Linked DNA regions of Homo sapiens: region 1 is reported to be linked to region 2. The links are microRNA targets in miRTarBase. Many come from high-throughput screens and were not tested one by one. Region 2 holds a microRNA gene; the other region holds the end of a gene's coding sequence.

Region 1 (3,000 bases), not on the chromosome of region 2:
GGCGATTCCATCTCAAAGAAAAAAAAAAAAGAGTTATTTCATTCCCTCTAGGCTGTTCAGGACTGAAGTGGGAGCTGAAGTTGTGATCTAATTGGCATTTTGAATCTGGAGGCCCCTTTTGTGGACTCCTTTGTAAGACTTTGGGTGACTGGTATTTTATGCTAAAAATAGGAATAGTATGTTTTGAATGGCCATCTGTCAGTTTACGTTTTTTAAAGTAAGGGGAATATTGTTAGGGAAGTAGACATCCACTGTCTCCTTGCCGGGGAGAAGTAGTACAGAGTTTGGCAAGTGAGGAGCATGGTTTGCATCCATGCACTGGGTCAGATCTCAGACCTCAGTTCTGTGAGACAGAGTTCCTAGGGAAGCATTGGCTTATACTGTGTTATAATAAGTGAAAAATCTGTTACTTTTAGGTCTTGCTGGCTTTTTCCCTCTGCATCCTATGATGATCACAAATGCTGAGAGACTGCGAAGGAAACGGGCACGTGAAGTCCTGTTAGCTTCTCAGAAAACAGATGCAGAAGCTACAGATACAGAGGCTACAGAAACATAAATGAGCTGACTTTAGTGAGCATAGCAGTGGGAACAAGGTCAAGGTCCTTTTGAAACACTGCAGCGATCTTAATTTTGTTAGATTTGGAGTTCAATAAATGGAGTATCCTGAGTTGCCCTTGCTCTTCTGGCCTGGCCTGCACAGGGCCCAGGGAGAGATTTGTTCTTGTGTGACTTAGAGCTGGGTGTGGGTACTAATTAGCTTTTTTCGACTTTGTCTTGGGATAGACAGTGGCTATGGGAGGATTGGACTTTTGAGTTGGGCTCTGGGTCTCTTGGACAACTTTACAATTTACTGGCTTCCAAGACTTCCTGCTTCAAAACCCCCAGCCAGACTATTCATGGCCCATTCAGATCTTCATGTTCATCCCACAAGTGCAAGAACAGTTAACCTTTCTTAATTGATTTTTGTAATTGGAGGTTTATATTGTCTTGCCTAATGCATATTCTCTTTTTTTTTTTTTTTTTGAGACGGAGTCTTGTTCTGTTGCCAGGCTGGAGTGCGGTGGTGCAATCTCAGCTCACTGCAATCTCCACCTCCTGGGTTCAAGAGGTTCTCCTGCCTCAGCCTCCTGAGTAGCCGGGGAGCTACAAGCATGCACCACCACACCCAGCTAATTTTTTTTTTTTTTTTGAGAGGAGTCTCGCTCTGTCGCCCAGGCTTGAGTGCAGTGGCGCGATCTCGGCTCACTGCAAGCTCTGTCTCCTGGGTTCATGCCATTCTCCTGCTTCAGCCTCCCGAGTAGTCCCAGGAGTAGCTGGGACTACAGGTGCCCACCACCACACCCAGCTAATTTTTTTGTATTTTTAGTAGAGATGGGGTTTCACCATGTTATCCAGGATGGTTTTGATCTCCTGACCTCGTGATCCGCCCGCCTTGGCCTCCCAAAAGTGCTGGGATTATAGGCGTGAGCCACCGCCCGGGCAAATTTTTGTATTTTTAGTAGAGATGGGGTTTCACCGTGTTGGCCAGGATGGTCTCAATCTGACCTTGTGATCTGCCCACCTCGGCCTCCCAAAGTGCTAGGATTACTGGCGTGAGCCACCACTCCTAGCCTTAATGCATATTCTTAAATATACAAAGGTAGATTTGTTATGAAAATTGCTTTGGGGCTCTAATAACCTACCTTTTAAGAATGAGAAACTGCTGGGCTTAAGGGAGTTCAGTATGAATCAAGATTGAACCATTCAAATGTGGCTGTGATTTCTGCATATATCATAGATGGGATCCTTCTGAGAATACTGGAATAGGGAATTAGGACACCAAGCCAATTCAGCTGTGAACCTTATTCTTGTACTTTTCTTTCTTGCTGGTAATTTTATGGAGCAGGTTAAGAAGGCTGCTCTGTGTTAGGATAAACTGTATACCAATAATGTTGACAACCTGTAATGAGTGTTGCATTTTACTTCTTGTATCTTTTCCTTCCTACCTTGATGCCAGTAATCTATAAGGGATCTTTATAGTTTGAATGTATTTGAATAACTTCAGTATACTTTAGTTCTACTTTTTTATTTGACTCACAACCATTCTTAGGTCTCAAGTATTCCCATGTGTTTTAAAAGCCTGAAGTCAGTGAGATGAAATTCAACATCAAGAATTTGAAGTAACTTGTAAGGAAAAATAATATAAAGATACCATTGGGGCAGTGGCTCACACCTGTAATCTCAGCACTTTGGGAGGCTGAGGTGGAAGGATCACTTGAAGCCAGAGTTTGAGACCAGCCTGTGCAACACAGCAAGACCCCGTCTCTACAAAAACTTAAAAAATTAGCTGGCTGTGGTGTTGCTCACCCATAGTTCCAGCTACTCGGGAAGCTGAGGCAGTAAGATCACTTGAGCCCAGGAGGCCGATGCTGCAGTGAACTGTGATTGTTCCACTACAGTCCAGCCTGGGTGACAGAGAAAAGAAAAAGAAAACATTACATAATTTGGCTAGAGCATAATAATTTGATTTTCTGGTTTTTGAAAATTTGAGTTGCAATAAAAGGATATTTCAGTGTGCGATTTCAATTTTCCGTAGCAAATGTATATATAGAAAAATGTTAAAATAGATGTATTTGAATACCTTAAAAAATACAAGAAACTGGAAGAAAGATAATATTGCAAAGCATCTACATATATCCTAGGCCTTTTGTGTACAAGGTTATTTGTGACAATTGTAAGGTATTATGAAGGCAGGTAGGATTATCTCCGTTTTACAGATAGGGAAGCTGAGGCCTAGAGGTGGAAACTTGCCCAGTGATGTAAGATTCATCTCCCGGTTATGCCCTCCTGGAAAGCCCTTCCCAACATATTATGTTGTCCATAGAGGGAAAAATGAGCAAAGACAGATGGCTTAACTCTGGTGTGTGACTAAGATATAGGAAATTTATAGAGGAGGTTCTATCAATGTGCCGACTTACTTTGTGTTTTATGTTCTGAGAACGATTACCAGCCATCTCAAAT
Region 2 (3,166 bases):
GTGAGACGAGAGAATTCCAGGAGATGCTCAGCCACAGGCATGACCCCCACAGTGCCGCAGGAGCACACACACACGCGCACACACGTTTACCCACTGACAGCTGTGGCCTGGTGAGACCAGGCTGAGGACAGCTGCCTCAGCGACCCAGGCTCAGATGCCACCAGTGCCCCATGTGGCCTCGGGGAATCTGCTGCTCAGAGCTCCTGTCTGCCCATTTGCACATGGGACCCATGAATGGAGGAGGCACTCTGGCCATGTGGCCAGAGGCCCCGCTCCTGTCCTGCAGATGTCTTGGTGACGAAACCCGATCCATGCATGTGGAGGAAGGTGGGGGCATCCCTGGAGCTGGCCTGTGCCAGGCCAAAGTGCTCCTTTGAGCTGCCCAGGGCTGTCCTAGTGAGTGTCCTCAGGCTCTGGCCACCCAGGAGGGCCAGGGGCGTCTGCATTCGGGAGTGGGTTGGAGAAGGGGACGATGGGAGAGCAGGAAGCTTTTGCAACTGCTCCAGGGCCATTGGGAGGGTGCAATTGGCTGACACCCGGAACTTCATTGATGCTTACCCCACGTGCCCTCTGTGTGGGTCCCGCTCCCAGTGCGGACACCACCTCCTAGCTCTCACTAGCTCATGCAGGCCTCTGGGGCCCTCCTGAATCCACACCTCCCAGGGCTGGGTCCTGGTTGTTCCCCAATGGGGAGCTGTGCCTCTCTATCACCAGCAGGCATGTGATCACACCTCCCAGGAAGCACAGGATCACACCTCCCAGGAAGCACGGGATCACACCTCCCAGGAAGCACGGGATCACACCTCCCAGGAAGCACGGGATCACACCTCCCAGGAAGCACGGGATCACACCTCCCAGGGAGCACGGGATCACACCTCCCAGGGAGCACGGGATCACACCTCCCAGGGAGCATGGGATCACACCTCCCAGGGAGCACGGGATCACACCTCCCAGGGAGCACTGGATCACACCTCCCAGGGAGCACCGGATCACACCTCCCAGGAACCACGATATCACACCTCCCAGGAAGCACAGGATCACACCTCCCAGGAAGCACAGGATCACACCTCCCAGGGAGCACCGGATCACACCTCCCAGGGAGCACCAGATCACACCTCCCAGGAACCACGATATCACACCTCCCAGGAAGCACAGGATCACACCTCCCAGGAAGCACAGGATCACACCTCCCAGGAAGCACAGGATCACACCTCCCAGGAAGCACGGGATCACACCTCCCAGGAACCACAATATCACACCTCCCAGGAACCACGATATCACACCTCCCAGGAACCACGATATCACACCTCCCAGGAACCACGATATCACACCTCCCAGGAAGCACGGGATCAGACCTCCTGGGGAGCACGGGATCACACCTCCCAGGAAGCACAGTATCACACCTCCCAGGAAGCACGGGATCACACCTCCCAGGAACCACGATATCACACCTCCCAGGAAGCACAGGATCACACCTCCCAGGAACCATGATATCACACCTCCCAGGGAGCACAGGATCAGACCCCCCAGGGAGCACAGGATCACACCTCTCAGGAAGAACAGGATCACACCTCCCGGGGAAGACGATAGCACACCTCCCAGCGAGTGTGAGATCACACCTCCCAGTGAGCGTGGGATCACACCTCCCAGGAAGCATGGTATCACACCTCCCAGGAAGCACAGGATCACACCTCCCAGGAAGCACGGGATCACACCTCCCAGGAAGCATGGGATCACACCTCCCAGGGAGCACCAGATCACACCTCCCAGGAACCACGATATCACACCTCCCAGGAACCACGATATCACACCTCCCAGGAACCACGATATCACACCTCCCAGGAACCACGATATCACACCTTCCAGGAAGCACAGGATCACACCTCCCAGGAAGCACGGGATCACACCTCCCAGGAACCACGATATCACACCTCCCAGGAACCACGATATCACACCTCCCAGGAAGCACAGGATCAGACCTCACAGGGAGCACGGGATCACACCTCCCAGGGAGCACGGGATCACACCTCCCAGGGAGCACGGGATCACACCTCCCAGGGAGCACGGGATCACACCTCCCAGGGAGCACGGGATCACACCTCCCAGGAACCACAATATCACACCTCCCAGGAAGCACGGGATCACACCTCCCAGGAACCATGATATCACACCTCCCAGGAAGCACAGGATCAGACCCCCCAGGGAGCACAGGATCACACCGCTCAGGAAGAACAGGATCACACCTCCCAGGGAAGACGATAGCACACCTCCCAGCGAGTGTGAGATCACACCTCCCAGTGAGCGTGGGATCACACCTCCCAGGAAGCATGGTATCACACCTCCCAGGAAGCACAGGATCACACCTCCCAGGAAGCATGGGATCACACCTCCCAGGAAGCACAGGATCACACCTCCCAGGAAGCACGGGATCACACCTCCCAGGAACCACGATATCATACCTCCCAGGAACCATGATATCATACCTCCCAGGAAGCACGGGATCAGACCTCCCAGGGAGCACGGGATCACACCTCCCAGGAACCACGATATCATACCTCCCAGGAACCATGATATCACACCTCCCAGGAGGCATGGGATCAGACCTCCCAGGGAGCACGGGATCACACCTCCCAGGAAAGCACGGGATCAGACCTCCCAGGGAGCACGGGATCACACCTCCCAGCGAGTGTGGGATCACACCTCCCAGGAAGCACAGCATCACACGTCCCAGGAAGCACGATATCACACCTCCCAGGAAGCACAGGATCACACCTTCCAGGAAGCACAGGATCACACCTCCCAGGAACCACGATATCACACCTCCCAGGAAGCACAGGATACACCTCCCAGGGAGCACAGGATCATACCTCCCAGGGAGCACAGGATACACCTCCCAGGGAGCACGGGATCACACCTCCCAGGGAGCACGGGATCACACCTCCCAGGGGAGCCACAGGTTCTTAATGGGACAAGGCCAGCGCTTAGCAGAAGTGTTCCTGGTGTTTCTTGGTGTCTGCCCATCAGTGGCCCCCACCTGGCTGCCTGTTGAAGTCATCCGGGGAGCCCCCTAAAAGTACGCATTCTAGGTCCACCTCTAGGCCTTCTAAGCCAAGCCACCCGCGGGGAGGTGGTGGTAGAACCTGCAGTGTGTGAGGTCCCACACCCC

What was found. The annotated mature microRNA hsa-miR-3689d reads GGGAGGUGUGAUCUCACACUCG and lies in region 2 at 2,275-2,296, opposite strand. An mRNA with a match to its seed (bases 2 to 7 or 8) in the 3' UTR can be bound and repressed. Matches are read on the target gene's strand: a 7mer-m8 pairs with bases 2 to 8, a 7mer-A1 pairs with bases 2 to 7 and ends in A, and an 8mer does both.
Region 1: the mRNA of MRPS16 is a reported target of hsa-miR-3689d. Seed matches in the 3' UTR shown: 7mer-m8 at 1,090-1,096.

Annotation. Positions count from the first base shown.
Region 1 is chr10:73,248,408-73,251,407 of GRCh38, reverse strand. MRPS16 (mitochondrial ribosomal protein S16) reads left to right here. Exons shown (of 3, transcript NM_016065.4): 3 at 417-2,559. The coding sequence ends at 556. DNAJC9-AS1 (DNAJC9 and MRPS16 antisense RNA 1) reads right to left here. Exons shown (of 4, transcript NR_038373.1): 2 at 2,958-3,000. Among named protein-coding and RNA genes, the nearest start is that of DNAJC9-AS1, 2.5 kb to the right of the region's middle.
Region 2 is chr9:134,848,058-134,851,223 of GRCh38, forward strand. It overlaps MIR3689D2 (microRNA 3689d-2), which reads right to left and starts at 2,299; the gene lies at 2,220-2,299. It overlaps MIR3689C (microRNA 3689c), which reads right to left and starts at 1,312; the gene lies at 1,241-1,312. MIR3689A (microRNA 3689a) reads right to left here and starts at 1,507; the gene lies at 1,430-1,507. It overlaps MIR3689D1 (microRNA 3689d-1), which reads right to left and starts at 1,625; the gene lies at 1,552-1,625. It also overlaps MIR3689B, MIR3689E, MIR3689F and LOC101448202.